Linked DNA regions of Homo sapiens: all the other regions are reported to be linked to region 1. The links are microRNA targets in miRTarBase. Many come from high-throughput screens and were not tested one by one. Region 1 holds a microRNA gene; each other region holds the end of a gene's coding sequence.

Region 1 (8,074 bases):
GAGGTTTCAGCCCAGTGCGTCCCAGCCTGTGCCTTCTCGCTCCAGGATGCTGTGCAGCTGATCTGCGAGAGCATTGAGACCCTGCAGGTTCCGAGTGGGCCCCCAGACGTGCTGGCTGCTCTGGACTGGGCCGTGGGGCAGCCCCAGCACAGGGCCTACCCTCGGCAGCTGTTCCTGCTCACTGCTGCCTCACCCATGGCCGCCACTACCCACCGAACCCTGGAGCTCATGAGGTGGCACAGGGGGACAGCCAGGTATGGGATGGGCAGAACCAGATGCGTAAGACTGAGCCCCCACAAGGGGCTCCTGAAGATCACAGCTGCTTCCTTTCCTTCATCAGATGCTTCTCCTTTGGGCTGGGGCCCACCTGCCACCAGCTGCTCCAGGGTTTATCTGCCCTCAGCAGAGGCCAGGCCTACTTCCTGAGGCCTGGGCAGAGGCTGCAGCCCATGGTGAGCTTGAGCCTGGGCCCTGTTCCCTACACCTGGAAGTTTTTCTCCCAAGTTACACATCAAGTCTGAAACAGAACTCAGGCAGGCCATGGGGGCTCCTGGCGCCCTCACCAGGCCTTCTCCCCACTCCAATCAGGGGAAGAGCTGTTGGTGCTGTGAAGGCCAAAGGTGTCAGGACACTGTCTCTGACCACCCTCTGAATCCCATTTAGTCCTGGAACGGAGCCTCGTCCTCACAGTCTTGCCCCATCCATGTGGCAAAGCTCAGGCCAGGAGACAGACCAAATCCTGAGGGCTGAGCACTCAGCCCCCTGCTTGCTCCTACCCTCATTCCTTCTCCTGACCCCAGCCTGGCCCTGTGCCCCATCAGCTTAGGGGCTGGGCAGATGGCATCAGGGGAAGGGCAGCCTTCCTGCTCTGTCTGGCCGTATGACACCTCTTTCCTTCCCATGTCTTCCCTGTGGCCACTCCCCACAGCTGGTACAGGCTCTGCGGAAGGCACTGGAGCCTGCTTTGAGTGACATCTCTGTGGACTGGTTTGTGCCCGACACTGTGGAGGCACTGCTGACCCCCCGGGAGATCCCAGCACTCTACCCTGGGGACCAGCTGCTCGGTTACTGCTCACTCTTCAGGGTGGATGGCTTCCGGTCCCGCCCACCAGGGGTAAGCTTGGGCTGGGGTGTGGTAGGGGGGCTAGGGTGAGGTAGGGGGGCCTGGGATGGCTGAAGTCCCCGCATCTCTTCCAAACCCTTTTTCCATTCTCTGTGCCTCTCTCTACCAAGCTTCTCTACTATCCCCTAGGACTCCACAGAGATCACACTGGGCCCCCTAAGATGACCACACCCTGTCCCCTTCATGGAGTCTTCCACTGAGTTGTCCTGCAAAGTGTTACCCCTCAGTTTTTACCCAAGGTCACTAAAGCACACAGCCACAGAAAACAGCACCTGCATTTGCTATGAGGTTTCCGTCAAGGCTTGCTCATGGCTTCACATAGTTCCCTATAGAAAGCACCAGCCAGCGTATTTTCTGGGACACGCAGTGATGGATGAGCATAACCTAGGCACAATCTCTAATCCCAGCTCTGTCACTTACCAGCCATTTGATTTGAGCAAGTCACTTCACCTCACTGACCCATTTCCTCATATGGAAATGAGGTTTTTCACAGGTGGTTGTCATCAGGGGTCATAAAGTGAGTACTCCTGGCAGAACACTTGACACAGTAGGAGCTGGGGACATGGTAGTTATTTTTTAATGAAAAGCTTTATCTCTTTAGAAGAACTCTGCACGCTTCCTCCTTTTTGATCATGAGAGCTGCATAACAGACTTTTTTTTTTGCCTGGCTGCCAGGGAGCTCAGGGCCAAACTTAAAGCTCAGCTTCCCAGCAGCTCTATTAACCCTTACAGTGAACATGTCTGCTTCCTCCTTCTTTAGTACTGGTCTTTTGTTTCTGGTTTATTAGCTTTGTTGCCTCTTGCTGTGAGCCATCTAAAAATGTTTGGAAAGAGGTAGCACATAACTGCAGTTAATTTTTTTCCCAATAATATTCTCTCTAGGGCCAAGAGCCTGGCTGGCAGAGCTCGGGTGGGTCCGTGTTTCCATCCCCAGAAGAGGCCCCGTCTGCTGCCAGCCCTGGCACTGAGCCCACTGGCACCTCAGAGCCACTGGGAACAGGCACTGTCTCAGCAGAACTGTCCAGCCCATGGGCTGCCAGGGACTCGGAGCAGAGTGAGTGCCCAGGTGTATGTGTGTGGCTGTATTGGAGTGGGCGCTGGGAGGGGTCAGGGCTAGGGCCCATTCTACTGCCTCCCAGCAGGTACTGATGCTCTGACAGACCCAGTCACGGATCCTGGACCCAACCCCTCTGACACAGCCATATGGCGCCGCATCTTTCAGTCCTCGTACATTCGGGAGCAGTATGTGCTCACCCACTGCTCTGCCAGCCCCGAGCCAGGCCCAGGCTCCACAGGCAGCAGTGAGTCCCCAGGCTCACAGGGCCCTGGCTCCCCCGAAGGTAGTGCTCCCTTGGAGCCCCCTTCTCAGCAGGGCTGCCGCAGTCTGGCCTGGGGAGAACCTGCAGGCTCCCGCTCCTGTCCCCTGCCTGCACCCACACCAGCTCCATTCAAGGTGAGATCCAACCCACATTCATTCGCCTTGTATCCAGCAAATATTTATTTACCACCTGCTGTGCACCAGATATTATGTAGAGTTTACTATTAAGTCTAGCTAGAGAGAAAGGTGGGTAAATCCCCAACGATACCATGTAACAACCAGTGATGAGCACAAGGACATGTATTAAGGGGGCTTAAAGTCAGGGTGACTAATTCTGCCTGAGAGAGTCAGGAAAGTCAGAGCCATATCTGGAAGAATAAGCACGAGTTAGCCATGCAGAGAGGGAGAAGACATAAACGAAAATACAGAGACAAGCAACAACCACAAGTGGGAAATAGGGAGTGGAGTGGGATGATGCTGGGAAGGGGCCAAGGCCAGAGGTCACTGTAGGCCATAAGGAACTTGGCCTTCCTCCTCAAGCTGGTGAGCGGCCACCCAGGGTTTCAGAAAAGGGGCATGGGCCAGCTGTGCACCCATGTATGATGGTCAAGGGTTCTGCATTCCTTGACCAGTGGCCCCCATATCTCACATGCAGGTGGGGGCCTTGAGTACTGAGGTGCTGGGCCGTCAGCACAGAGCGGCTCTGGCTGGCCGAAGCCTCTCATCCCCTCCAGGCCGGGCAAACCAAGTCCCCGGCCGACCCCGGAAACCCTCTTTGGGTGCAATACTAGATGGCCCAAGTCCTGAGCCAGGCCAACAGTTGGGACAAGGCCTGGATGACTCAGGTAAGTGTTGGATGGGGAGCTGGTTTCCCTGACACCAAAGAGGCCTTGGGGAGGTAAAGCCCAGAGGACCACTCTGCCCATGCCCCTGCTGTCTTGCCTCCCCAGGAAACCTGCTCTCCCCAGCCCCTATGGACTGGGACATGCTGATGGAACCACCCTTCTTATTCACGGCTGTGCCTCCTAGTGGGGAGTTGGCCCCTCCAGCAGTGCCTCCCCAGGCTCCACGCTGCCATGTGGTGATCCGGGGCCTGTGTGGGGAGCAGCCCATGTGCTGGGAGGTGGGTGTTGGGCTGGAGACACTGTGGGGACCTGGAGATGGCTCACAGCCTCCCTCACCTCCTGTAAGAGAAGCTGCTTGGGACCAAGCACTCCATCGGCTGACAGCAGCCTCTGTGGTCCGGGACAATGAGCAGCTGGCCCTCCGAGGAGGGGCAGAGACCACAGCTGACCGGGGTGAGTTGCTCATGGGTCCAGTCAGGACCCAAAGGCATGGGCTAAAAACAGCAAAGGTAGAGGTCTGTGTGTTTGATCACTCTCTATACCTCGCTTTGATCACAAAGGATTTGAGGCTCATCACAGACAAGATAAAAAATTAAGCGGGACAATGGGAAAAAGTAAAAATAAAAGGAAACTGAGAATGAGGTTATATTAAAGGTGCATGCTGTGAGGTTATATACTCTTGCAAGGATCAGATCCAGAACTGACAAGCTTCCTAGCAGCCAGCACAGAGGGCAACGTGATCCTGTCATGATTCACAGCACCCACAACGTAAAAACAAATCTTTGTCATTTAGGAAAATACTTAAAGTTCATTTCCTCAGTTGCACTAACCACAGCTGAAGTACTCAATAGTCAAATGTGACTAGTGGCTACCACATTGGATCATGAAGAGAGAGAACATTTCCAAGTTTTATTAGTGCAGAAGCAGGTGGAGGAAAATGTGCCAGCTAATGCTTCCTCTGGGTGTTGTCCAGAGTGCTGAATTTCTGGGCAGCCAGGGGGCTCTTGCTCTGCTATGGGTTGAAGATTCAGCCTGATCACTTCTTGTCAAAGTTGGGGAGTCTGAGCTGGTTCTGGGCCTAGCAAGGCAATCTACTCTGTTAAAGTCGATAGAGGGAGAAGCTGGGGAGAACACTGCAATTTTTTCTATGAGCCCTCTGTAGAGGGTGGGTGGTGGGGGCTCCACAGACTGCTCCTTGGTTCCACAGGCCATGCCCGGAGGTGCTGGCTTCGAGCCCTTCAGACAAGTAAGGTCAGCTCTGCCCCCTCCTGCTTCACTTGCCCTGTAGCTGTGGATGCTACTACTAGGGAGGTCCTGCCTGGGGCCCTGCAGGTGTGCAGCTCAGGTAGGGGCCTCTTCTGGTGACCTCTCAGGTGCAGCTCTCACCTCACTGGCCACTCTCCTGGACAAACCTGACTCCTGTCCCATGTGCCCCTGCAGAGCCCGCTGAGCCCCCAGGAACCCCTCCTGCCTCTCACAGCCATCTAGATGCAGCTCCTCTGCCCACTGTTGTCTACTCTAAAGGTAACACCCAAAGGTAGGGAAAGGGTAGGGGCACTTGGGCTTAGAGACCGCCCCCTGGCACTGATGATCCCCACTGCAGGACTTCAGAGAGGCTCTCCAGCAGGCGCCTGGGACTCGGACCAAAATGGCAACTCCAAGCGTGCTTTGGGGGACCCTGCCACTCCCACGGAAGGTCCTCGCCGCCCACCTCCCCGTCCTCCCTGTCGGCTCAGCATGGGCCGCCGTCACAAACTCTGTAGCCCTGACCCGGGCCAGGCCAACAACAGTGAAGGCAGCGACCATGACTACCTGCCCTTGGTGAGGACTCGGGAGGTGGAGGGTGGTGCCGCCGGGGCCGGGCGCTGTTTCAGCTCGCTTCTCCCCCCACCTCCTCTCTCCTCAGGTGCGGCTGCAGGAGGCACCAGGCTCCTTCCGCCTGGACGCGCCCTTCTGCGCCGCTGTGCGCATCTCGCAGGAGCGCCTCTGCCGTGCCTCGCCCTTTGCCGTGCACCGCGCCAGCCTCAGCCCCACCTCGGCCTCATTGCCCTGGGCACTTCTGGGCCCTGGTGTTGGCCAGGGTGACAGTGCCACGGCCTCCTGCAGCCCGTCCCCCAGCTCGGGCTCTGAGGGGCCAGGCCAGGTGGACAGTGGGCGGGGCTCAGACACCGAGGCCTCCGAGGGGGCGGAAGGGCTGGGCGGCACCGACCTGCGGGGCCGGACCTGGGCCACTGCCGTAGCACTCGCCTGGCTGGAGCACCGATGCGCCGCTGCCTTCGACGAGTGGGAACTGACAGCGGCCAAGGCTGATTGCTGGCTGCGGGCCCAGCACTTGCCTGACGGCCTTGACCTGGCCGCCCTCAAGGCCGCAGCCCGAGGGCTCTTCCTGCTACTGCGCCACTGGGACCAAAACCTGCAGCTACACCTGCTGTGCTACAGCCCAGCGAACGTGTGAAGGCTGCCCCCTGCTGCTTGGGCTGGCGCCCCACCCAACACACTCAAGTCACTGCCGCCCAGGGCTGGCCTCTTGGTGCTGGGAAAGTGTAGGCTGGTGCCAGCCTGTCCCCCACTGCTTCTTACTCCCTCCCTAGAGCCCTCTTGCCCCCACAAAAAGTGCCTGCCTGTGCTCTCTCCCTCTCCTCCCACCCCACTCACACTCCCCTCCATCCTCTGAGCTCCCTGCAACACAGTGGAAGGGTAGAGAGCCACAGTCCCCAAATCCTATGCAATAAAGTGCCTCTTAGGACTGCTTGAGTGAATTCTTTATCTGCTCCATACGTGTCCCTCACAGCCTGGACCAGGCATCGGCTGCCCCCACCTCCATGTAGGTTGCACAGAGTTGGACTTAGCAAGGTTTATTTGGAAGGGCAGAGTCCAACCAACCCCAGGTCCTGAGGGTAGACTCAGGTCCTGAGGGAAAGGGGTGGACTTCAGTGGGCTTTCTTGCTGTGTTGGGTGCTCTTGGGGAAAGGCTGCGGGCCCAGCCAGAGCTGCAGCAGGATGACGGCATGGCATATGTGCAGGGCAGCAGAGCTGCAGGATGTGGAAGGGTATGTGTTCCAGGAGAGCTCGATGAGCCCCAGCACCAACAACCTGGAGATGAGAAACAGGTTCCACGTTTCATCCAGTTGCAAGGCCTGCAGACCTGCAGCTCCTCATGCCCTAGACATAAACCCCCAACAGGAACTCCCTATCCCTTCCCACTCCCCCAGGTTGTCCCAGCTGGTACCTGAGCAGGTGTGTGAGCCAGCGTGCAGGCATGGCCCACAGGAGGTAGGGCAGTGTGTGGAAATACCAGACGTAGAACTGGTAGTGGAGGGAGCGGCTGAAGCAGATGCCAATGAAGTTGGAGGTGAAGAGGGTAGAAACGATCTGTATGCGGTGGTCAAGGCCAAGGGCAGGAGTGTGTGTGGGGGGGACTATCCCAAAACAGAGGGGCAATAGTTTTTAGGTCACATAGCCCTCTGGCTCTGCCATTCCTTGATGCATGCCTTTGGGCAAGTTTATTAACCTCTCTGGACCTGCTCCTCAACCAAATATGGAATATGGAGAGAGTAATACCTAGGGCCATAAGGTCTTGTGGGTTTGAACCCCTAACTTACTGGCTGTGTGACCTTGGTAAGTTACTTAACCTCATGAAGTCTTAATTTTTCCATCTGTAAAATGAGAATAGTAAATGTAAGTGTACCTCCCTGTCTCGGGGTCTCTTGTGAGCTTTCAATATTAGAACATATGTAAATCTCTTATGATAGTACCAGGGAGAAGTACTCATAAGAGTAGCTCGTATTTAGAATTAAGAATCAAATATCCTTCAATATGTGAAGTGCTCAGCACAGTGGTGCAGAATAGGACTTCTATGATTGGGGTCCCCTTTCCTCGCCCAGGTCACCAGCTGTCAAGGGATACCTGACCAGGACTCTGTCAGCACCTAGAGAGGGCAAGACTTACCTTCCCACAATTTAAAGGATATGGTTGGGTGTAAGGGGCTGGGGTGGAACCTTCCTTTTGGAGGGATCCCTCAGCAGCGACAAGATACTTTCCCCTGTCCTGGAGAAAAGCCATTCAGACAGTTATCAAGCCCCTTTTGTGAGTCAAACTCTAGACTCACCCCATGAGCTTAACTGACACTTCCCCCAAGCAGCCCCTAAGGCTTAGGCCCTTCACTCCTTCCCCCAACTCTGCCCATGGCACTACTGCCTTTTCTCACCTGTGCCACCTGCAGAGGGCAAACAGCAGGAGCAGGGTGAGGTGGGCAGTCAACAGGGCCAGGTGGAAGGCTCGATGCAGGAAGAGCGCCTCTGGGAGGAAGCGCCAGTTCACTGTCCAGTGGAACAGAAACTGGCGGCCAAGGTCAAAGGAGCGGGACAGGTAGCCGCTGGGGTTCTCCAGCAGGAAGGGCAGCCCCAGCACCACCTGAGGATTGGTGTGATGTCAGCAGAGCTGCCAAGGCTCATTCCCAATGACCAGCCTTCATGCTACTCATTGAGGGGTGTGGGACGGGGATGTAGGCCTCAGAGGTTCCCCAATTCCCACTAGAAATAGCAGGAAAACCACGTTCCCCACCCCCCGGCCCAGGCCAGTGCCTGGGGCCAAAGAAGCTCAGGAGGCAGGTCATAACAATGCTTTAAGGTGTGGATTCACCAAGTCATAACTGGGCAGAGCAAGGAAGGCTCTCAGAAGCCAGGCAGGGTGGCTCATGCCCAAAATCCTAGCGCTTTGGGAGGCCAAGGCAGGAGGATTGCTTGAGCCCAGGAGTTTGAGACCAGCCTGGGCAACCCAGCAAGAGCC
Region 2 (8,074 bases), not on the chromosome of region 1:
AACAGAAAAAATTAGCCGGGCGTGGTGGCAGGCACCTGTAGTCCCAGCTATTTGGGAGGCTAAGGCAGGAGAATGGCGTGAACCCAGGAGGCGGAGCTTGCAGTGCGCCAAGATCACGCCACTGCACTCCAGCTAGGGTGACAGAGCGAGACTCTGTCTCAAAAAAAAAAAAAAAAATAGGTCAGTTCCTCTCCCACACAAGTCAGTTAACTCTGTAATGCCATGTGACTCCTGATGGCAAGCCTGAAGGTCAGAGGTTATAGCCACCCAAATTATAGAGTTGTGTAAGTCTTTACAATTACCTAATATGCTTTTCTTTTTTGTGTGTTTTAATATAATTGACAAACTCTACCCCAGAGAGGTTAAGTGACTTAACTAAGTTTGACATAAGTTGTGGCCACTGAGTTGACAGACAAGTCTTGATCCCAGACCAGTTTTTTTCTTTCAATGAAATATAACTGCCCATATTTTTTAAAAAAGCCTCCGCCTCCTAAACTCTGGCTCAATTCTGCTGACTTGATATATTACTTTAGATTTAGAGAATCCCAAGGGATAGCTCTCTGGATATTATGTTAATTAATAGTCTTTGCCCCCTCTCCTCTTCTATTAGGTAGGAAAACATTTTCTAGAGAATAGAAAGAAGTCCTCTCATAACCTGGTGTTTTCCCCTCTCGGTTATGTATTAGATAATTAGATAAATTGGACCTTATAATCTATCTGTTAAGTTCCTGTTATACCTAGATTATATCTTGGTTCTTCTGCTTGAATCTCAACATCACATATTTGTCCATTTAAAGTCCTTTCAAACTGAGCTCTTTTGCAAACAGCTTCCTATGCAGGAAACCAGAGTTATTTACTAGGTCCTTAACATGAATCCCCAAATTTTATTTTAGATGATACTGAATTTTTGTGCCTTTGCGAAAGTCATGTTAAATATGTTAAAACCATACCGAAAAGATAAACACACACATACACAAAAAAAAAACCATACTAAAAAAAATACCCAAAGAAAAACTCATAATACCAGGCAAAAAATTACAGCGTAGTACCTGTCTCAAAAGCTAATCCTATATAAAGTTCATTATAGAGGACACTGTTCCTGGTCTGTATCATAAATAATTTTTTTCTTTTCTTTTCTTTTCTTTTTTTTTTTTTTTTTTGAGACAGAGTTTCACTCTTGTCGCGCAGGCTGGAGTGCAATGGTGCAATCTTGGCTCATTGCAACCTCCGCCTCCTGGGTTCAAGTGCTTCTCCTGCCTCTGCCTCCCGAGTAGCTGGGATTACAGGCATGTGCCACCGCGCCTGGCTAATTTTTTTTGTATTTTTTAGTAGAGACAGGGTTTCTCCATGTTGGTCAGGCTGGTCTTGAACTCCCGACCTCAGGTGATCCGCTGGCCTCGGCCTCCCAAAGTGCTGGGATTACAGGCATGAGCCACCACACCCGGCCCATAAATAATTTTTTAATGGAATAGGAGTAAAACAAAATTGTGTCAGTGTGGAAAGGAGTAGGGAAGGATTTGAGAAAATTAATAACTTTAGGGTTGTTAGGTATTCAAAGTCTCATTTAAATTGTTTTATAACTTAAGGCATAAATATTAACAGATTATTATTTATGTATTGCAGAGGAGAATTTGCGCTTTGGCTTGATGGAGATCTCTACCATGGAAGAAGCCATTCTTGTAAAACGTTTGGGAATCGTACACTTTCTAAGAAGGAAGATTTCTTTATCCAAGATATTGAAATCTGGGCTTTTGAATAAATAAAATGCTCTCTGTCTTAGCAGGAGAATGGCCCAAACCTGACATGGACAAGCATTGTTTGGAAAGTTCAAGAAGCAATACAGTGTAACATGTCACTTGTGCTTTAAAATTAGTCTGTATCACCATTTATTACAGTTATAATTTTGGAGTTTATTTTTCAAATCATGTTCTTGTCCCAGAGTTCTTTAGGTTAACACTAGGGACTGCGTCCATGTACTAGTATAACAGCTTGGGTTTGTTAGAATTTGGGCAACATTTTGATTATAATGACAACTTCATTTTCACATGTTACTCAGTTCCCTAATAGGATGGTGCTCTTTTGTTGAACCTGTATTGATTTTTTTTTTTTTAACTATATTGATTCGTTTACTAGAACAGTCTAATTGGGGCATTGAGGAAATGAAGACTGGATACTTCTGTATCTGTGAAGTTGGCACAGGTAACATTTGGACATGTTCATCTTATTCTTAGGAAGGAAAAAATCACTTGCCAAAATAATACATACTTCATAGACCACTGAGTTCTAGTTTTTATTCACACTACAACATTCTCTTTAACGATGTTGCAGGTATTCTCAATTTCCTTTTAAGAAAAATGAAATGTGAGGAGAATTCTGGTTGTAATAGATGACAGTACATATGATCTGCAGGTTTGGGCATATGCTTTCATCATTAAATTATCTGATAAAGTTACAAGTCACAAAGGAGAATGAGAACTTAATGATTCTATTGGATTTAATATATTAGCAAGAAAACATACTATTTACATATGTGTAGCTTAGTAAGGCATTAACATAAGTACAAAAACTATGAAACAGATGCATATTTCCTCAACATACTGTGTCAGGTATACTGTTTTATAATTTGGTTGTTTTAGCCTTATTGCACACCAACTCCCAAAATATAGGTTACTCTTGTTCAAAAGGAAAAAAAAAATTGTGATTTTCTTTGAGTGGTATATGTTATTAATTACCATTAGCATTTGCTCTTATAAAGGGCAATGATTATAGTAGACAATATTGTAACTCAGTAGACTTGTTGAATATGCAAACTTACTGTCAAGTGACCTCAAAAAAAAAATGAAAAGATAGAATACACTAGTAGTTCTTATCCTCTTTTGTAGGAAACCAATAATAGCCATTGTGGCAATAATTCATCAGTTGATTTTAAAGCTTCATGTTATGCAAAAAAGAATCCTGCTGTTATACATGTGACAGTGACTTTGTGCTGAAATTTCAGCTATTCCAGATAAACATTGTATATCTTGTAAATTAATGTTTAAAGGTGTAGTTTTGTTCTTACAGAAAGTGTTGATTGCCAGGTTGCTTATAGCACTTTAAGTTATTCTAAAAATGAAATTATAAGCCAAATATTTGGCTTAAGTAGATTTAGTTGTATAGCACTTACATATTTAGTTCTTTTGAAAGTTTAGATAATTATTTAAAGAAAGCATAATGCTAATGGAAAAGAAAATCTGATGTTCTATTATAATATGCTATTGCTGAATATGAATAGAAATACAGGGCATCATTTCCTTGTCTCATTATAAGTTAGTAACAATATATAGATTAAATGTTTACAATATAGGGAATTGTAAATAAATATATCAGTTTTTTTCCCCTTCGGTCTTCCACAGCAGTATTATTGTCTTTGTGGAGTTGACTAATGATAATTTAAAAATCCTGTAATGGATTTCTACTAAAATAAGGTCATAGTGGCATATACCAAATAAAATCAAATACAGAAATACAAATGAGTTTGGATTTATTGAATACTCATTTTCTTAACAAGTCTTTGATTAAGCCTACTACTATCTTTTTTTTTTTAATGCTTCTAATAGCTTACATTGTGGTGGTGGTGGTCATGGTGTTAGGAGTAATAGTGATAGGAGAATGCATTCAATTAGAGGGAGCATTACATTTTTTAAAATGGAGATGGGAGAAGGCACTTGACACATGGGAAAGTGTAAGTTATTTGATATTTTTAAAGTACATTGTTTTCATTTTGGGTGGAGAATGCATAACAAGCTAAGCCCCTTATCATAAACAGTTATGTGTGTGCAATGCCAAGAAATTTTGATATTTTGTATCCCGTAGGTTCAGTTAACATTTGAGAGGAGGAATGACATGATCAGGTGTATACTTTAGGAAAATATCTGTGAAAAATAGATGAGTAGAAGGAACAACTAGAGACAAGGGGAAAACAAGCCTTTTATAAAGTCCAGAAAAAAAATGATTAGGCCCGAATAAGAACAGTGGTAATGGTAATAAGGAAGCATGGATTTGGAAAGGATTTATGAGTTAGGATGAACAGGAGTTGATTATTGATTGGATGTCAGAAAAAGTTAAAGATAGCTCCCAGGATTTTGATTTAAGAGTTTAGTTGTATTATTTATCAAGATGGGCAAGGTACATAGAGGAAAAACAAAAAAAAGCAGGTGGCAAAATGAAGTTAGTCGTGGACTTTATGAGAGTATGATGTGAGAAACAGGAGAATAAACTTTTTGGGAGTAGGACATTTTATATACTATTCTGAAAGATGAACTTTAAAAGTCAACAAAAAACAATAAAACTCTTTCACTTTTTATATGCAAACAAATATGAAATTTATGTATTACCATTTGTAATACCATTGAAAATATCAGATATATAACAAAGTGAAGACCAAAATAGGAAGGATATACCATATTCATTACTGGCAGACAATATTGATTAAAAGATATCAGTTCTCTTAAATTATATTGACAGTGAAAATCTCACCCAGGCTTATTTTTTGGAAATTAAACTGATTGTAGAGTTTATATGGAAATGTAAAATCAAAGAATAGCTAAGCCATCATGGAAGAATTGAGTGTCTGGTCTTCAGTATCAGATAATCATGATTTATTAGAAAGCTGAGTAAGAAAGACAATATATTGGTCAAAAGTTCAGAAAGAAACTGATTTCTGAAGAAGGTGATACTGCTGTCTGCTCAGTAAAGAAGACAGTCTGTTCAATAAAAGATGGTGGATTAGGCCGGGTGTGGTGGCTCATGCCTGTAATCCCAGCACTTTGGGAGGCCAGGACAGGTGGATCACGAGGTCAGGAGATCGAGACCATCCTGGGTAACACGGTGAAACCCCGTCTGTACTAAAAATACAAAAAACTAACCGGGTGTGGTGGCGAACGCCTGTAGTCCCAGCTACTCGAGAGGCTGAGGCAGGAGAATGGCATGAACCTGGGAGGTGGAGCTTGCAGTGAGCAGAGATCGTGCCACTGCACTCCAGCCTGGGCGACTGAGCAAGACTCCGTCTCAAAAAAAAAAAAAAAAAGATGGTAGATTAATTGGATATCTATATGGAACAAAAAGTCTTATCTCACACCACAAACAATTAGAGATTGAAAAATAATTGTGAAAAGCAAAACAATAAAGACATTAGTTTATATAGGAGAATATCTTCATGACCTTAGGGTAAGCATATATTTCTTTAATGGGACACAAAAAGCACTAAATATAAAGGAAAAAAATAAATTATGCTACATTAAAACTTTAAGCACTTCATCAAAAGACATCATTGAAAGTAAGAAGGTGTCCAATAAGAGTGAAAGCTGTTGTTTTCTCCAACTTTTATTTTTGGTTTGAGGGTACATGTGAAGGTTGGTTTCATAGGTAGACACGTGTCACAGGGGTTTGTTGTACATACTATTTCATCACCCAGGTATTAAGCTTAGTACCCAACAGTTACCTTTTCTGTTACTTGCCATCCTCCCACACCCCCACTCCAGTAGACCATTTTGTCTGTTGTTTCCCTCCATGTGTTCATAAGTTCTCATCATTTGGCTCCTACTTATAAGTGAGAACATGTAGTATTTGGTTTTCTGTTCCTGCATTAGTATGCTAAGGGTAATAGCCTCCAGCTTTATCCGTGTTCCTGCAAAAGACATGATCTCATTCTTTTTATGGCTGCTTAGTATTCCATGGTATATATGTACCACATCTTCTTTATCCAGTCTGTCATTGATGAACATTTAGGTTGATTCCATGTCTTCGCTGTTGTGGATAGCGCTGCAGTGAACGTTCATATGCATGTGTCCTTATGGTAGAAAGATTTATATTTCTCTGGGTATATACCCAGTAATGGGATTGCTATGTTGAGTAGTAGTTCTGCTTTTAGGTCTTTGAAGAATCACCCCGGCTTCCTTACACCATACACAAAGAGCAGCTCAAGATGGATTAAAGACTTAAATGTAAAACCCAAAACTGAAAGCTGTTTTAAAAGGGAATGTAGAGTGGAACAACCTTGGAAAATGTTTCTGGCAGTATCCACTAAAGCTAAGTATACACATGACTTTGACCAGCAAATTTAATTCAGTGATATGTACTGAACAGTAATATGTATATGTGTTTACCAAGAGATGTGCTGGAATGTTTACAGAACTATTTGCTTGCTCTCTTCACTTCCCATCCTCTCTCCTCCTGTACACATACCCACACACCCTACTTATTAATTTACTGCATCTCATTGTTTCACTTTACCTATAAAGATGTGTATGCATTTCCTAAGAACAGAGATGTCCTCCTAAATAGCCAAAGTACAATGATCAGATTCAGGGAATTTAACATTAATACAATAATATGGTCTAATATGTAATTCATTTCAAATTTCTCCAGTGACCCTAATAATATCCTTTCAAGCATTATTTTTCCTGGTTCATGATCCAAAGATCCTGCATTGCATTCAATTGTTCTGCCCTTTTTTTTTTTAATCTCTTTTAACCTGGAAGAGCTCATTATTCATTGCTTCATGACAGTTAGTTGTGTGTTTGAAAAATTTCAGGATTGTAGAATGTGCTTTGATGTGGATTTGTCTGAATTTTTCCTTATGCTTAAATTTTGGTTATGCATTTTTCATAGGAAAACCAAAGAAGTGTTGTCCTCTGCATCAAATCAGGGTGCACATAATGTATGTTTATCCCTTTATTGGTGATATTAGCTTTGATTATTTGATTAGATAGTGTCTACCATGTTTCTCTCCTGCTATCAGTTTTCCTTGTGTAATAAGTAATATGTAGAGAGATGCGTATTTTTAAACTTTTTCATTCCCAACACATTAGTTGCCATTGCCATTTACTACAAGGAAGAGCTTTCCTTTCTCCATCATTTATGAATATGTATTATCAGTATGAACTAATGAATTCTCTTTTTTCTTTTTCTTTTTCTTTTCTTTTCTTTTTTTTTTTTTTTTTTTTTTGAGATGGAGTCTCGCTCTGTCACTCAGGCTGGAGTGCAGTGGCGCGATCTCGGCTCACTGCAAGCTCCGCCTCCCGGGTTCATGCCATTCTCCTGCCTCAGCCTCCCCAGCAGCTGGGACTACAGCGCCCACCACCACGCTCGCTAATTTTTTTTGTATTTTTAGTAGAGACGGGGTTTCACCGTGTTACCCAGGATGGTCTTGATCTCCTGACCTCATGATCTGCCTGCCTCAGCCTCCCAAAGTGCTGGGATTACCGGCGTGAGCCACCATGCCCGGCCGAATTCTCTTTTTTCTAATTCAAAAGGTTACGTAATCAATTTCTATCCTAGACTTAACCAGTCAGAACCCCATCGGTCTTATTTCTATGAGTTTTTCAATTTTCTTGAGCATTTGCTTACTCCTCGTTTAACAAAAATGTTTTAGATTTATTTGTACTTTCTGTAACCCAATCCTAGAATCAGCCATTTCTGAAAGGACCCATATTTCCTTTGCAGGAGAATATTATTTAGAATCAGGGGCACTTGTTGCTACTAGGGTGGTATCACTTTAGGGCCTTTCAGGAGACATCTAAATACAGCATAAATTCACACCAATACCACTCCTTGCAATCTCACATCACAGAGTTCTTGCTTGTCTTCCCTCATTCCATGTTTGTCTCTTCCCCCACAGTCAGGACATCTGTGTATTTACTTGTTTGCTTCATTTTATGATACACACCTTAGAATTTCAGAATTGCCAAACCCATGCCCTCCCAAACACCAAAATTAAGTAGAATTTGACATTTCTTTGTAGTTCTTTTATGTCTTTAGACTGAAAGTATTTATTCAAAAAGTATTGTATTCAAAAGTTGGGTACATTTCTTTTTTCTTCCTGTGTAGTTATTTTAATAAGATAAAATAGAATTCAGTTTATTTGCTTTGTGTCCAATTTTAGTTTTTCTCCTACTTCTATTTGATTTTACTTTATTTCATGCATAATATTTAAGTTCCCAAAAGTCAAAACCTCTAACCCTATAAAGAGGTATACTCTGAATCTCACTCCATCGCCCAGGCTGGAGTGTGGTGGCACAATCTCAGCTCACTG
Region 3 (8,074 bases), not on the chromosome of region 1:
AAATAGCAACAGCCACACAGCCCCCAGGTTTTGATTTCTAACACCATTCTCCAAAAAAAGGAAACCAGGGCTCATTAGAGAAATGGCTGACTCTAGAACTGGGGCAGGAAATACTCAAGATGAGCCTGGAGCATCTTGTAGTACCAGAAAGTAAGGAGATGCTTAGTTACCAAAAAAAAAAAAAAAAAAAAAAAACTGAGGGAAGTATGTCAAAATGACACAGGAACCAATGAAGGAGCTCCCAATGGCCAAAGCCAGAGCAATTTGAGCAAAAACAAAACAAAAAAACAAATAAAATAGTATTGGATTATAACCCAAAGTGTAAGAGAAATATCTGTGAGTCCATACTGACATAAATGAATGTCTGAGTAAGTAAACAAATAGATAAGTCTCTAGGGCAGAAAATGTCCAAATATTTTATGTAAATATCCCATTCTGAGAAAAGTAGAGTGTAACTTCCTACTCTTTCAGTGTGAACTGCATATAGTGACTTCCTTCCAAAAAGTTCAGTACAGGAAAAGGGAGAAAAGAGTAATTCTGGAGTCAATAAACTTGGCAAACACTACCCCAGCCTGGAGATCAAGGTCAACGCCAACAGTAATGAATTCTATTGATGGTATGTACCCTTCATAGGATGTGATGAGAATGGCCCTTTATCTCCATGGTCTTCCTCCTGAAACTCAGTACCCCAATGTAATCATGAGAAAAACACCAGACAAATTCCATTTAAGGGACAATCTACAAAGTACCTGACCAGTGGGCTCCTCAAAACTGTCAAAGTCTTCAAAAACAAGGAAAGACTGAGAAAATGTCACAGCCAAGAGGATCCCAAGGAGACATGATGGCTAAATGTAACGTGGTATTCTGGATGGGATCCTAGGAGAGAAAAAGGATGTTAGGGGAAAACCAACGAAATCTGAATAAAGTATGGACTTCAGTTAAATATTGGCTCATTAATTGTGACAAATGTACCATACTAATATAAGATGTTAACAATCGGGGAAATGGGAAAGGGTGGGTATATAGAAACTCTCTGTATTATCTTCACAATTTTTCTGTAAAGCTGAAACTATTCTATAATATAAAGTTTTTAAAAAAAATTTTTGAGACAGGGTCTCACTCTATCACCCAGGCTGGAGTACAGTGGCGTGATTACAGCTCACTGCAGCCTTGACCTCCCAGGTTCAAGCAATTCTCCCACCTCAGACTCTTGATTTGCTGGGACTACAGGCACACGCCACCACACACGGCTAAGTTTTGTATTTTTTTTTTAGAGACAGGGTCTCCCTATGTTGCCCAGGCTGGCCTCAAACTCTTGTGATCAAGTGATTCTCCTTGAGTTCTGTGCTCTGTGAACACAGGCATGAGCCACTGAGCCCAGCCTAAAAAGGTATTTAAAAGATATTAGGGATGGCTGGGTATGGCAACTCACACCTGTAATCTAAGCACTTTGGGAAGCTGAGGCAGGAGGATCACCTGAGCTCAGGAGTTTGAAGCCAGCCTGGGCAACATAGCAAGACCTCATCTCTACTAAAATTAAAAAAAAATTAGCTGGGCATGGTGGTGCACACCTGAGGTTCCAGGTACTCAGGAGGCTAAGGCAGGAGGATTGGTTAAACCCAGGAGTTCAAGGTTGCAGTGAGCTGTGATTGTGCCACTGTACTCCAACCTGAGTGGCAAAGGGAGGCCCTGTCTCAAAAAAATCAAAATTAAAAAAAGACATAAGTAGTAATTATGGAATCTCAGAAGACCAGAGTCAAGCTTTAGAGTCTATGCTGGCAGGAGGAATGCTCCAATAACGGCAGCACTAAATCTAGTCTGAGCTCTGAAAAAACACCAGGACAAATCAAAGGTCTCACATGGTTGAATCTGACCGGTGGTCCCTGGGTCACATGACTGCACTTTAAAAATAAATAAATAATTAAATTAAATTAAATTAAATTAAAACAGGGTCTTGCTCTGTAGCCCAGGCTAGAATGCAGTGGTGTGATCACAGCTCACTGCAGCCTCAATCTCTTGAGCCCAAGCAATCCTCCCACCTCAGCCTCCCAAGAGCTAGGATTACAAGTCCGCACTACCACACCCAGCTAATTTTTTTTGTATTTTTTGTGGAGACGGGGTCCCACTGGGTTGACCAAGCAGATCTTCAACTCCTGGCCTCAAGTGATCCTCCTGCCTTGGCTCCCAAAGGGCCTCCCAAAGCATCTAGCCTCATGCCTGCACTTTTCTGCAAGGAAGGCTGTAAGTGCTAGTTCTGCTTCTAACTTTAAAAGGTGAACTCAAAATACAGGAAGATACCTAAACCAAGAAGCTGTTCAGGATAAAGGAAGAACCACAAGAGTGTGACAAATGTTTTCCAGTGACATAATTCTATTGCATGTCTGTAGATCTTGTTATTCCTGGAAGCATTTAAGCTTTCAAATGTAACAAATCATTTGTCACGCTTCTTCAACACTAAGTAAAAAACAGATGTCACTCATCTGCCTAAAACACTTCAATGTTTCCTCCTTGTCCTTCACATAAAATCCAAAACCCCTCCTCTGGCTTTGAAGGCCCTCCAACAGCTGCCTGTCCCCTGCTTCACCTCACACCACACTCCAGCTAGACTGGAGTTCTCTTGGTGCCTCAGGCCTGTCACACTCCTTCTCTGCATTTTCTGTTTTCTCTCTCTTTCCTCGTCTGTGTCCCCATCCCACTCTGCCTAAATTCTGCTCATCTCTCAAGGCTCAGCTTATGTGCCTCTTCCTCAGGAAGCCTTACGAAATCCTTTCGCTTTAGGCTCCCACAGAACAATAAAAGTTTCCTTTTTGAAAACACACTGAGTTTATCATAAATTGGGTAGCCTGTGTTTTCTCCCCCAAAAACAGAGATTCATTCTGAGACCTGAAAAAAAAAAGAAAGTTGCCTTGGGACAGATAGGAGGGGAGGTTCTTGGAGGTCTGGGATGGGAACAGAGAGGCAGAGAGAAAGGAGGGCCTGAAATCTGTGAGGGAGGCAACGCATTGCCCTGCTGGGGGCTACCTGGAGCCCTGGCCAGGTGGGGTCACCAAGGGAGCCAATGGCAGCCCCCATGCCCAGGGCCCAGCCCCAACCAGGGCAACAATGCCAGGAATAATGCCAATAATCCCAGAAGCCAGGGTGCTTTGTAAGAAAAAGGGGAAGTGCTAGGCAACTACACACGTGTGTGCGCGCACACACACACACACCCCACCCAAATAATGGCTTATCTTCCAAAGCACTGGGAAAATTAAAGCAAAGAAAGCATAGCTCATACAATATGAGAAAAAGAGGAGAGAGAGAAAGAGAAAGCGAGAGAGAATGACAAAGAGAAAATGAAGTGATTCAATAGATAGATAGATCAATAAAGCATAAAAACAGAAAAATAAAATATAGTACATGTTCACGAGCATTAGGACTAGTTGGTCAGTGGGGGTGATTCAAGTATTTTTTTCTCTTCTTTTATATTCAAACACAAAAGGATAAATTTTTCAAGAGTATTTTATTGCAACATTGAAAGAGGGCATGTCAAGCATTGTTAGCCTGCCAAATCAGAAAAAAAAAGAAAGAAAACAACTAATGTAATACAATAAATACCCAAGTTGACTGAGAAAAAGTTCTCACCTGTCCCTGGCTCCCAACTTTTCACCTGACAATGGAAAAATCCCCAGAATTTCACAAGAAATACTGTGGGGTCCATGATACGAGGAGCTGCCCAGGTATTGATAACACCCCAAGACCTGCTAGAGACAGGACTAGAGCACTATCAATGGTGGGACTTCCTGGGCGAGGCCACACTGCCAGCAGAAGGGCAGGTGCCCATGTAGCGACCTCCCTGGAGAAGCAAGGCATGCATACAGTGGGGGAGGGAGCCAAAGTCACAAGACAAAGCAAAGCGACAGGTGTCCCAGCTTCCTCAAGGGAGGAAGCCAAGGCAATGCTGCACTTGTTGGGTTCAGGCTGGGGCACAGACTCCAGATAAAAACACATCCTCACTGACTCAGGCTCTTTCAGTTTCAAGAAAAAGCAATGGTTGGGGTCAGGAGCACAGCCTCGTAAGGTCCCCATGCACAGAAACCAGGAGGATCAGAAGGGCTGGGAGGATCTGAGGCAGCCCTGGGAACGGGAGCAGCCGGAGCCCTTCAGGCTGCCCTCCGGGACCTCCATTGCGACTCCTCTGAGCCGTTCTCTTTTCTCTGCCAACTATAATCCTCTGCAGTCACTTCTTTTTTTTTGAAACAAAGTCTTGCCCTGTTGCCCAGGCTGGAGTGCAGTGGTGGGATCTCAGCTCACTGCAACCTCTGCCTCCCAGATTCAAGCAATTCTCCTGCCTCAGTCTCCCAAGTAGTTGGAATTACAGGTGCCCACCACCATGCCCGGCTAATTTTTGTATTTTTAGTAGAGATGGGGTTTCACCATGTTGGCCAGGCTGTCTCGAACTCCTGACCTCAGGTGACCCACCCACTTCAGCCTCCCAAAGTGCTGGGATTATAGGCATGAGCCACCATGCCAGGCCTGTATTCATGTCTTTCCCCTGCCTCATAGCTTCTGCTCATTGCTAGTTTCTTCCAATGCCACGTGACGGCCCCTCCAGCCTTTCTCTTAACTCAGTGCCTTCCAGCTCAACTTCCTTTTGTTAACAGCCTCATCCTCTTGCTATTTCCTGGTTCAAATTCTTTCCCAGAGAAATGGTCTGATTTTCCCAGCTCATCTCTTTGCCAAAACCAACCAGAGATCCCCGACCAGCCTTGTTCTTGTCACCTCCCATTTCCTCCATTGGTGAGGGAGGGATCCCCTGCTCTAAATAGGACAAGATGGCCAAAACAAGACATTTGACACTGTGCAGGTGAGACTGGCAGCAGTTTACTAGTCACAAATACAGTCTACTGGGGAAAGATATCATAAGCCACACAGGGCCACATGGGGTCACCCTCAGGAGCAGAGTGAACCAGCCAGGGCTGTGGGAGGCAGGCCTTGTAGTAATAAAAGGATGAGATGCCCCGGATTCCTGTAGGAGGATGTGATTGGCTTGTTTGAATAGTTTCTCAGGCTGGCAGAGAAGTGAAACCCATTAAGTAGAAAACTGGGTGGCATGCAGCTGGTCCAGATGATAGGAAATTAGCCAGGTGGGGACCGAGGGCAAGGATATATCTGGTGAGAGGCAGGGAACTCAGGGTTAGGTCTTTGGGGCCCTGTGAGGCATAAAATGTCACAGCAGCACGTGGTATTTCAGGTCTTACAATACAAGCCTGTGCCCTCAGCTGTGACCCATTTGCACCCAGAACAACACACTGCTGGTTACAGTTATTTAAGGAAGCATCTTTTCCTGAGGACCTTAATGAAGACCTGTGCTCACTCCACCCTCCTCTCCTCTCTGTGGTGGCTGCTGCCTGGATTCCAGCTTCAGCCACTGGACTTGGGATTTGGAACTGATGCCTGTGGAACTGGGTCTCTGTGAAGAGTGGGGAACCTGCTGAGACTTGTTCTTGGGAATTGAGCTATAGACTAGAAGATTGTGCAGTAAACAAGAAGAAAGATCACCAAGATCGTGACATTGGAGACCTTGCTCTACTTTAATAAAAACTAGAGATAAGTACTGGTCACATTTTGTGGCATTTCCAGGACTGGAACTTCCCCAGTCCTTGTTATTTTTGACTCCCCAGATGTTTCCTGAGGATACCCTAGAACTTCATGTCCACCAGAGGAGACTGCCTTTCCCACATATTCACCTGGACAACCAGAAATGAAAAAGTGCACTTGGAGTGAGTCCTTGACCCAGGCAGCATTTTATTCTGAGGAAGCTGGAAGGTGAATTCATGAAGGCACTGAAGGCTGCTTCCCATGCACAAGACACAGGAAGATAGGAAATGCAGAAGGAGGAGGAGGTGCCGGAGAGGTGAGGACAGGGGCTGGATGGACGCTGGGTGGAAGGCAGGGCTCGGCACTCCAGTGTACTAAGGGAGTGGAAGGAGAAGGGAGGCTGGGTGCCAGCCGAGCTCTGAAGGAGATACAAGTCCGTGTCAGCCACTGACTTGAACCAGAGAAGAACGGGTTCAGGCTTTAGATGATGTGGATGAAGAAACCACTGGGGACATACCATGAGCAGGATTTCCAAGAACAGAGCTATTTGCACTGCAAACACAGCCAGCTGCTAGCTGCCAGCACAGCTAAGCAGAGACATGGAAATTCTAGGGGGTTTGGCCAAGAAAAGCCCTGGATGACAATATCAGGAGAATTGCTTGGTTGCTCTGGAGTAACTTTGATGTGATGAAGCTGAGGTTTCTCTGAAAGAGTGGAAAACCCCAGGGTGTTATGCCGGATTACGGGTCTTGATCCTCCTTAGCAGGGCAATTGGAACTTCTAAATCCTCTCTACCCACCCCTCCCACTTTAACCTGAATTCTCCTTTCCATTCCAGCTGCCTCCAAGACGTCAGAGAATTTCCAGCCAAGACAGACGGACTCCAGAATGCCACTGTGGGACAATTTTGAAGCAAGAAAAATTAACGTGCAAAGTCATCCTGGAGTCTGGGGAAGAAAGAGGCATTTCCTCATGTTTAACAAGCGTTGGAGCTCAAAGAGTGAGCTTGGGAGCCTGTCCTGTCACGGTTCTGATGGGACATAGGGTCGCTTACAAATGAAAAGAAACGTTTTGTCACATGGGGCATCATTCCAGGCCTGAAGTGAGGGAGCCTTTATATTGCCACAGTGTTCATTGTTCCCAGCATTGTTGGGCTCACCTGGAATCCAGAACCTACCAAGAGCGGGGAAAAAGATGGATTTACAAAGTGGAAAATCAAAAAGAACTTATTTCCAGTGAAGAAATGAGTTAACTCAACCCAAGCTTTTGTCCTAGGGAATGGCATAGCAAATGTCTGCACCCAAGCCTCAGAGGAAGGGGACTGGTGAGACTTCGACCTCTAAGCTTTCACATGCCCCAAGTCCAGGCCAAACCAACCCACCACTTTCAAGTCCCTACACAAACCCACACTGTGAAGACCTAGACTCATGACAAGATCCCTGAAGCTGGCCAGGTAGAAGGCCTTGTTGCCAAACCCCAGAGGGCGTGGAGGGCTCAGGTCCACAGCCAGTTGGTGACAGGGTTGTGCTCGATCTTGGTTGCAATGTTCCTGTCACTCTAAGACAGGGAAGAATCAGAAACCCTGTCTCATGGGGAACATCGCCCCCACTCCCTTCATGCCCTGGCCATGGCCGGGGAAAGTCAGGCTGGCACGGAGGGCTCCAGGGGCTTACCTCACACTTTGGACCTTGTTGAATGGCGTGTCATCCACCCAGGACCAGTCCCCTTCCATCCCTGCTTTAGTCAGGCCAATCCAGTAGATGAGTCCCCCCGCTGTTTTATACAGAAACTCCTGTAGGAAAGACAGGATAAGCAGAGGTGCGGCCACACTTGGAGCTTGATCATCTGTCTCTGGGTGTTCTTCACCTGCGCTCAGTGACAGCCCTGACCCACAGATGCGCTGCACAAACTGGCCTCTCAAGCTTCTTCCTGCCCTTGCCCAGAGCCCAGATTTCATCTTCCAGATTATGATGTGTCCCTGCTCTGCAGCTAACAAGCTCAGGACTCAAGCCTTTCTGCCACTCAGGAAGCAGGTGCTGAAGCACAGGAAGGCCTCAGCTGAACTCCAGAGCACGGACCGCAAGAGAATGGTTCATATGATAATACCTGAATTAAATGAGCCCTGAATCCACATACGGCACTGTGCTGAGTCGTCCATATGCATTCTCTCCTTTCCTCTGAGGCAGGTGCCATCACCATGCATGTTTCATCAAGTGAGGGCCAGTGAAGTTTGCCCAGTGAAGTTGGGTATTCCACCCAAGCTGCTAGGACTAGTTAGATGGCAAGGTTCAGGCTCTAGAACTACGCCAGAGCCCAGGCTCTGACCTGCTCTGCTATCCCACCTCCCAGATGAAAAGGGCCTGCCCAATTTCTGCCTCACCAGGCAGGAGACTTCTTGAGTCATGTGGAATCATTAAGGCTGTTCACAAATATTTCTTTTTTTCTGGGCACATGGAAAGTAGATCCTCTCTGCCCTGTTCCAGGAGTACTGGAATCCA
Region 4 (8,074 bases), not on the chromosome of region 1:
AACTCTATGGTGTTGGATTGCAGTTGGAGGTATCCATATTCATACACACATAAATTAACATAGAAATAGATGTTATGTATGTTAACATGCACATCTTGGTTTTCAATTGTTTGATCCTTAAATAATGGAAAGTATAAGAAGAGCCTGGAGTATCTTGTGGTGCTAAAAAGTAAGGATGTCCTCAAATAATGTTGTAAAGATGTCCAAAAAACACAGGAGCCAACATAATGTGGCTCCAATGTCTACATAAAAACCATTTGACAAAAAAAAACTAGTGGATAATAACCTAGTCAATTAATGTATATTTGTTCAAATAATAGAGTAACTTTAAATAAACAGAGAGAAAGGGACAGTTCTTTCTTAGATTACAATACCAATTAATACATGTTACACAAGTGATGAATACAGAAAATCACTATTAGCAAAAACCATATTAAGCACGCAAGAATCAAAAATGGATGCTAAAATTAGTGGATGAAAGTTTGCTGAGAAACAGGATATTTGGATGGTCTCAAAGTATCCCTTCAAGAGCTAGTTATTAATAACACAGGAGAAAATAAAATTAGAGTGGTCATTGCTGGCAGATACATACCTTAACCAAGTGATCAAAGTTCTGTCATATTTAGACAACATGTACTCGCTAATATGTGCGTTGAGAAGAGTATATCATTTTTGCCAAAAAATACGTATAATGTTAATATAATCATGAGAAAACATCAGACTAATCCAAATTGATAGATATTCCACAAAATAATTGGCCAATCCTTTTCAAAATTGTCAAGGTAATATATGGTAGACAGCCCCCAATATCACCCCAATGATAGTCACAATATGCATGCCTCTTGGTACTACCTTTTGTCTTTTCTTCCCACTCTATACCAGGCATGGTAGGCAGATTTGTAAAGATGTGTTCTCCTCCCTGGCTTATTCAACCAAATATGAATCAAGGTCTTCTAGTTTACTGCAAAGTTCTTTTAAATCCTTTTAAGGACTTTGCAGCTGGAATTAAGATTACTAAGGTCATCTGTATGACCAGTAGACTGTGGTAGAAAAGATGGTATGTCACTTCTAAAATCAAATCATATAAGACACTGTGCTTTCAGTTTTGGTTGCTCTCACTCTCTTTTGTGTCATTCACCCTGGTAGCAGTCAGCTGCCACGTCACAAGACCTATGAAGAGGCTCACATGTTGAGGAATGAAGTTCTTTTTCAAACAAACATGTGAGCACACTTTCTTACAAGCACATTACTCAATCCCAGAGAACCCTTCAGATGATTACACCCCCAGCCAATATCTTTATTGAGACTTCTTGAGAAACTTCAAACCAGAGCCACCCAGCACAGCTGCTCCTGAAATCCTGACACACAAAAATGGTAGGATAATAAATGTTTCCTGTTTTAAGCCACTGAAGTTTAGAGTTATTTGACACATAGACATAGAGAGGAAATATATCATGAAGAAAAAAGACTGGGTAACCATTCCAGATTGGAAAAGATTAAGAAGCAGTAATAAATAAATTTAACATGGGATCCTTGACTGGGTTCAGATCAGATAAAGACCACTGAAGCAGGAAATTACCCTGATCCCTTTGCAGGGGGGAACTGGAGTGTGGACACTGGAGCTAGCTGGTTGCTTTGGTGCCAGCAGGGGTAAACTCCACTCACTAGAACCTGTTATGCTCAACCCCTTGTGGAAGAGAGCACATAAGTGAGTGGATGCAGGAGCCAGGGTGAGTGCTTTGGGGCACCAACAGGAAACGCCGTGCAGGCTCCATGGAAGCATCTAATGGGGAGTACCCACGACTCCCGAAGCCCCAGGGGCATGCTTTACAGCGTTCTTTTAGCTTTGCTGTCTGCTGACGGCTTAAGTGTGAAACAGCTCAGTAGGCGCTCTGCCTTTTGACGTGAGGCAGTTGCTCTCCACCAGTGAGGGCAGAGGGTCAGAGTGATAGCCTTTAGCATTCGCACCCGTGGCACATGAGCTGTTGTTCAACATCCAGGAAAAATCAGGTTGCATGAAAAAATTGAAGGGTAGTGAATGTGAAGGACTTTATTGCCTATGAAAGTGGCTCTCAGCCGCAAGGGGAGCTGGAAAAGGGATAGAGCAGGAAGATGATCTTTTCCTGAAGTCCAGTGGCCTGGACTTCTTCTCTCCAGCCCCAAACCAGTTTCCAATGTCCAGCTGCTTTTCATCTTCTCCTCGCCTGCTCTGCTGGCAAAGCCTGGGATGGCACAGGATAGGGGGCAGAGTGGGCCATGGGTGGTTTTGGAAAAGGCAACATTTGAGCAGGAAAACAGGAATGCATGTTCTCACTTTGGGCTGTAGTTCCAGGCTTGAGGGTGGGGCCTTTACCAGGACTCGCTCTCTTCTGCCCAGAATTTCCCAGCCTCCTGTCCTTGTCACCACTAGTGTTATGATTGGCAAAATTATAATAAAATCTGTAGATTAGTTAATAGTATCATGCCAATGCTAGTTTCTTCGTAATTGTTTCTAGTTTTAGGTAATTGTTCTATGGATTTTTAAAATATTAACACTAGAGAAAGCTTATAGAGGAATTTTATGTGTACTATTTTACAAAGTCTAAAAGCACTACAAAATAAAATTTTAAATGGAAAGTCAGACGCACTAAATTTGAAAAGAAAAAAATGATCAATTCTTGATAATTTTTATAAGCTAAATTAATTTTAGCTGAAGCACTAAAATGTTATAATCCAACTTACCCATTGAGTTTTTCAAAGTGGATTATCTTTCATCTATTTTTGATTACTCATATGTGCTGTAAAAGTTAGTGTTTATTGGACTTTACTGAAAAAAAAGCTGAAGGAGCCTGGGGGAAAAGAACATTACATTTCAAATTAACATCTAATATTATTTCCTTAAAATATTTTACTATTACAATAAACTGAGATAAATTAAACACATCCCACACTTTTTTATCAGATAGTTTACAAATAAACCATCTGTAAAATGTATCCTACTTATATAAATCTTATATATTAATCTGTCATATGTAGAAACTTGTGTAAGAGAATTTCCCTAATATATATTTCATAATACATGTGGTTTGTATTGAATTAAAAACATCTGTTGAGATACAAGAAATCACTGGATTAAATTATTAATACATTCACCAAGTTCAAAAGCATACTAATTTCCCTTTCCCATCCATAAAATATGCTTATGTTCACAGAGATAAGGCAAGTTTCAAACCTGTGTCATTTAATAAGCTCAAACACGACAATTTTGTATAAACATTCTGATTTAATAAATGGTATGAATATATATTTTGCATACTTTACAATAAAGAAAATTTTGAAAGAAAATGGATCTAAAACTTTGTTTCCCTCCAATTTACATAGTAAAGTCAACTGCATACAGTTCTTTCCATGTGTAAGTTTTACATTTGTATTTTCTACAATTAAGTAAATCTAAATGTTAAATTTTAACACATATATCCAATTATGTACACAATTACAATGTCAATTTATAAGTCAAGCTTACTTAACAATCATAAATTACAAAAAACGCACTATGAATAATTTTGTTCTAGAAGTATCACATCAACTCATATGATCTAGGTGAACCCAAAAGTAAAAAATAATGATTATAAATTATGGTAGTGTCTGTAAAACCCTGTTATAAAGGAGGTATTCTTTTAAAATATGTACCTTATATATAAAAGCTCCTGACTCCTTTTAAGGACCAAAATTATTTTCAGTCTAACCATTTTCATTAAAGCGCTTATTTAAAAAGTATCACCTTATAAAACTGAGTATATAAAATACAATGCAGCCCTTGATAGCTAAGAATCTTTATAAACGCCAATGATTTAGTGACCTGTTTATCAAACTATTTCTATGGATGGGTTGATTTTTTTTCTTCCTCTAAATTAAGTGGCCCTAGACTAATATATTTGTTCAGTTATTCTGTTTTCTTCCTTACTGCCATTTCACATCTCCATCAGTGAGTTCCTCAGGATTTGCCTTTATGTTACAACTATGAAAGTCTTCAATCCAATTCCCTGCTTCCACACAAAGGACAAAGAAAGCCTAAACTTTCCTTTTCCTTTTTTCTGGGCTCCAATAGGAAGCAGCATTTACAACGTGTCTGGCTTGGTGGGAGGAAGATTGTCAATTGAGGTATCATGTGTGTTCACCTGCCTCTCTTGCCCTATTTCTTTGGTTGCTATAAATTTCCTGCTTCTCAAATATCTGGATTTTTGGCTACCTATTTGGCTTCCGTCTTTGGTGTTTATATCTGTCTGGTTTTAGCAGGTCTCTCTGATTCCTGACCCACAGCTCCTCTCCTTCTCTAATATTCAAGTATGCTGCTTCCCTAACTCCTCATTCCTTCTCCTTGAATTTCACTTTACAATTGCGCTAGGTTCTAACATCGTTGGCCATAGATTACCACAAAACATAATTTCTTAAATTCTGCAAATTTCTAATGTTTCTAATCTTGGTTTCCTACAAGATCTAACACTAAGCTTGTGTTATCCTGATTACAGTGTATATAAAACAATGCTTGTGGAAAATTAACCTAGGAGAAAGCTTATAGGGGAAACCTGATGATGAATTTTATTAAATTAATAACCCTTATAACAATTTCAAATGTAATACTATCTGGATTTGAACTTCAATACTTTTCCTAAGTAAAATTCTTAACCATGGTAGAAGTTATGTTTGTTGATGTTCACTCATCTATACCCTCCATATTCTCAGCAAAGTTGGCATAAATCTGACCTGAATAAACAGGGTTATAACATTATCAGGCTTGTAAAATACTTTATCAAATCAATGCATCAGTTAAAGCAGGGGTCCCCAGCCCTGGGCTGTGTGTGGCCTGTTAGGAATCGGGCCACACAGTTGGTGAGCTGAGAGGCAGGTGAGTGAGCATTACTGCCTGAGCTCCACCTCTTGTTAGATCAGTAGTGGCATTAGATTCTCATAGGAGTGCACACTCCATTGGGAACTGCACATGCAAGGGATCTAGGTTGCACTCTCCTTATGAGAATCTAACTAATGCCTGATGGTCTGAGGTGGAGCAGTTTCATCTCAAAACCATACCTTCTTCCCCCATGGAAAAATTGTCTTCCACAAAAATGGTCCCTGATGCAAAAAAGGTTGGGGACTGCTGAGTTAAAGGGTAGGGTTTAATATTCTAATTAAACAATAATAATAGATGACTACACTATGCAAGGCACTGTCTTAGGTGCTATGAGTAATGTGTTAAGTGGTTGGCTTTTCAAATAGGAAAAATTAAAGGTATATAAGTATTGATCAATAGTTTCATGTTTAGTTGGCATTTTTCTTTACTGACTGGTACTTTCCTCTGAAATATATGCAATTGAATAATATTATCACAGAATCATAAATGTGTTAAAAATTGTAATATCAACAAATTACCTCCTGGAATTCTTGAGTTAAAGTGAAAATATGTGTATACAATGCTGATGTTTCTGTATTCACTATATACTAAGACACAAGGATGATAACTAACATATTCTAATAGTTCAATAATTTGCTTGGAGAAAGGCCAGGCTAGTATACATAAATTTAAAAACAAATTACATGGTAAACCTGGTTTTAAATTCATAGGCTTTCAATAATAATTCCCGGAAATCATCACACAACTTTGATTAGTTTAAATTTTTATACCATAAATGTTCTAAGCTCAAAATATTGACAATGAAAATTAAAATTAAACAAGTTGTAATGGGGATAGAAACAACATTTTTTTTAAATGTAAATTTTTCTAATTGTGGGCCTTTTTTCTTGTTATTGCTTGAGGATTTCATACCTAGACAATGGGAATAGGAAATAAGTGTGTATGTGTGCGTGTGTGTGTGTGTGTGTGTGTTCGTGTGTGTGTGTGTGTGTGTGCTCGTGTGTGTGTGTGCTGTGTTTTGAGGCTTTACGTGGGCTTTGAAGGCACAGGTCTGTTTCTTGCATAAAACAAAAACTACATAAGTAAAAAAATACATTTGATTATAAAAACATCAATTTTGTAAATATGATTGTCCATATTGGATAGATAATCCTGCCATGGCAATGTGTGTTCTTAAAAATCGAGGTAAATTTTCCAGGTGTAAAACAGTCTTCTCTTTTCCCATTTCACCCTTCTTTTACTATTTTGTTGAGATCCTGTTCTGCTAAAACATTAGTCACAACTGCATTCTCTTTATGAAATGACACATCTGTGGCTGATGGAGGTGGTTTATACAAAAAGATTGCAAATCCATTGAAGAACATGGTGATAACTTTACAAGTAACACCTAAGTGAAAAAAAAAATTAATCATGTGCTTTTGTTTTTAATTATGATAAAAATTATCACTGAGAAAAATCTTCATGAATAGAACATTTTTAAAGAGAATAATTACATAACCATTATAGTTCTATGTTTAAAATTTTTGAAACATTAAGGGGAAAGAAAAAACATTTGTATACAATTCAAGTCACTAGTACTTATTTTCTTTCTAAGCTGTAATAGAGCACAATAATTAACTTATTCTTGGTTATGCTTGTGCATTCTTGTAAAATAAGTGTTGTATAGAACTAAATAGGAATTGGGCCACCATCTAGATTTGTTAACACAAGCCCATAATCCCAGTACTTTGGGAAGCTGAGAGAGGTGGATGTCTTGAGTCCAAGAGTTCGAGACCAGGCTGGGCACCATAGGAAACCCTGTCTCTACCAAAAAAAAAAAGTGCAAAATATATTCAGGTATGATGGATGGTACAGCCTGCAGTCCCAGCTACTTGGGATGCTGACGTGAGAGGATCGCTTCACCCCTAGAGGTGGAGGTTGCAGTGAGCTGAGATCACACCACTGCACTCCAGCCTGGGTGACAGACAGAAACCCCGTCTCAAAAATAAATAAATAAATTCGTTAACACAATATGATATCTATAAAAAATTGCAAGCAACCAAAAGTCAATAATGAGGGAAAGTAGTTTGTAACATTCTTGAACCTGAATAAATTGAAGAACATTCCCTTCCAGGACAGAAAATAATTCTAAAAATTAAAAAGGTTTTGGAGTTCTTAAAGCCTCTGTGGGAGGATATCACACTCAATACTTAACCAAATCTACTCTTCTTATCAGCTAAAAATAAACATTAAGATTCACTTCACAAACTTTGATTTATTTCCAAGTAAATCTGATTTTAAGTTCAGTTATATGAAGAGAAACTAGTTCCAACCACAGTATAAGCATTTAATAATTGCCAGCCTAATAAATTCAACGTGGTCTCACAGTATAGTTCTTGCAGTAGCTGGTTTCTTTTTGTTGATTATTAATATTTTGTTTAAAAACATGTATTTGAAAAACAGGAATGCTCATTCATCTAGGCATTACTAGACTATAGAATGATTAGTTACATAGGTACAACTTACAACTTTTTTTATTTGTTTCATTCTGAAAATTTTAAGGTTTTATATATTTTGTGGGGGGATTCCCATTCATCATTGACTAGGAAAATGAATGATTTGTTCTATCTATATCTTTGACCAAAAAGTACAAACAAAATGAATTAAATAAATTTTAAACATAAAAACATTGTATGTAGCCATGATTGTGGTAAAAATATATAATTTTAAAAATTGAATAAAAAATGGTTTTTAACAACAGGTAAAGTAATGGGATGATTAATTTTGCCTATACTTGTCAATACTTACTCCCCAAGTGCTATAAGAATTTATAGATTATTTCTTCAGCAAATATTCTATTACTCTATCTCTATCAACTCAGAAAGCATACTCTGGATTTACATGCATGTAAGAGTAATAATAGCCTATCTTGATCAACCTGTGTCAAAATAATCACAATGAAAATCACACATTATATTAGATACATATGTATACATACATTCAGGATTTCTCTAAGCTATTTTAGTTTCCTAGGTTATTATTCAAATTTTAAATTTTTAAATTTCAACTTTTATTTTACTAGTGTAAACTAGATACATTGTTTTACTTAATCTTAATCTTGCCTTAAATTTCATTCATTGCTTAACCAAGACATTACAAACTGCAAAAGGCAAAAAGAATTAAACATCACAGCTAACCTTCTAAACT

What was found. Region 1 holds the annotated microRNA hsa-miR-1224-5p (GUGAGGACUCGGGAGGUGG, at 5,108-5,126, shown strand). A microRNA usually pairs through its seed, bases 2 to 8, with sites in the 3' UTR of a target mRNA and lowers its output. Matches are read on the target gene's strand: a 7mer-m8 pairs with bases 2 to 8, a 7mer-A1 pairs with bases 2 to 7 and ends in A, and an 8mer does both.
Region 2: miRTarBase lists OXR1 as a target of hsa-miR-1224-5p. Seed matches in the 3' UTR shown: 7mer-A1 at 2,587-2,593.
Region 3: the mRNA of CD207 is a reported target of hsa-miR-1224-5p. Seed matches in the 3' UTR shown: 7mer-m8 at 5,895-5,901.
Region 4: miRTarBase lists SLCO4C1 as a target of hsa-miR-1224-5p. Seed matches in the 3' UTR shown: 7mer-A1 at 5,786-5,792.

Annotation. Positions count from the first base shown.
Region 1 is chr3:184,236,298-184,244,371 of GRCh38, forward strand. MIR1224 (microRNA 1224) reads left to right here and starts at 5,108; the gene lies at 5,108-5,192. VWA5B2 (von Willebrand factor A domain containing 5B2) reads left to right here. Exons shown (of 20, transcript NM_001390846.1): 10 at 46-254; 11 at 341-452; 12 at 929-1,114; 13 at 2,006-2,177; 14 at 2,266-2,576; 15 at 3,097-3,286; 16 at 3,392-3,739; 17 at 4,494-4,631; 18 at 4,727-4,810; 19 at 4,890-5,107; 20 at 5,193-6,032. The coding sequence ends at 5,741. It overlaps ALG3 (ALG3 alpha-1,3- mannosyltransferase), which reads right to left. Exons shown (of 9, transcript NM_005787.6): 6 at 7,494-7,699; 7 at 7,257-7,333; 8 at 6,516-6,660; 9 at 6,004-6,379. The coding sequence ends at 6,217. RefSeq lists a silencer at 5,624-5,918.
Region 2 is chr8:106,749,183-106,757,256 of GRCh38, forward strand. It overlaps OXR1 (oxidation resistance 1), which reads left to right. Exons shown (of 17, transcript NM_001198533.2): 17 at 1,624-3,512. The coding sequence ends at 1,759. Among named protein-coding and RNA genes, the nearest start is that of ABRA, 17 kb to the right of the region's middle.
Region 3 is chr2:70,824,452-70,832,525 of GRCh38, forward strand. CD207 (CD207 molecule) reads right to left here. Exons shown (of 6, transcript NM_015717.5): 5 at 7,250-7,368; 6 at 5,760-6,749. The coding sequence ends at 6,599. It also overlaps a transcript of CLEC4F not described here. Among named protein-coding and RNA genes, the nearest start is that of CD207, 7.3 kb to the right of the region's middle. RefSeq lists an enhancer at 6,062-7,261.
Region 4 is chr5:102,230,744-102,238,817 of GRCh38, forward strand. It overlaps SLCO4C1 (solute carrier organic anion transporter family member 4C1), which reads right to left. Exons shown (of 13, transcript NM_180991.5): 13 at 3,243-6,275. The coding sequence ends at 6,115. Among named protein-coding and RNA genes, the nearest start is that of SLCO4C1, 62 kb to the right of the region's middle.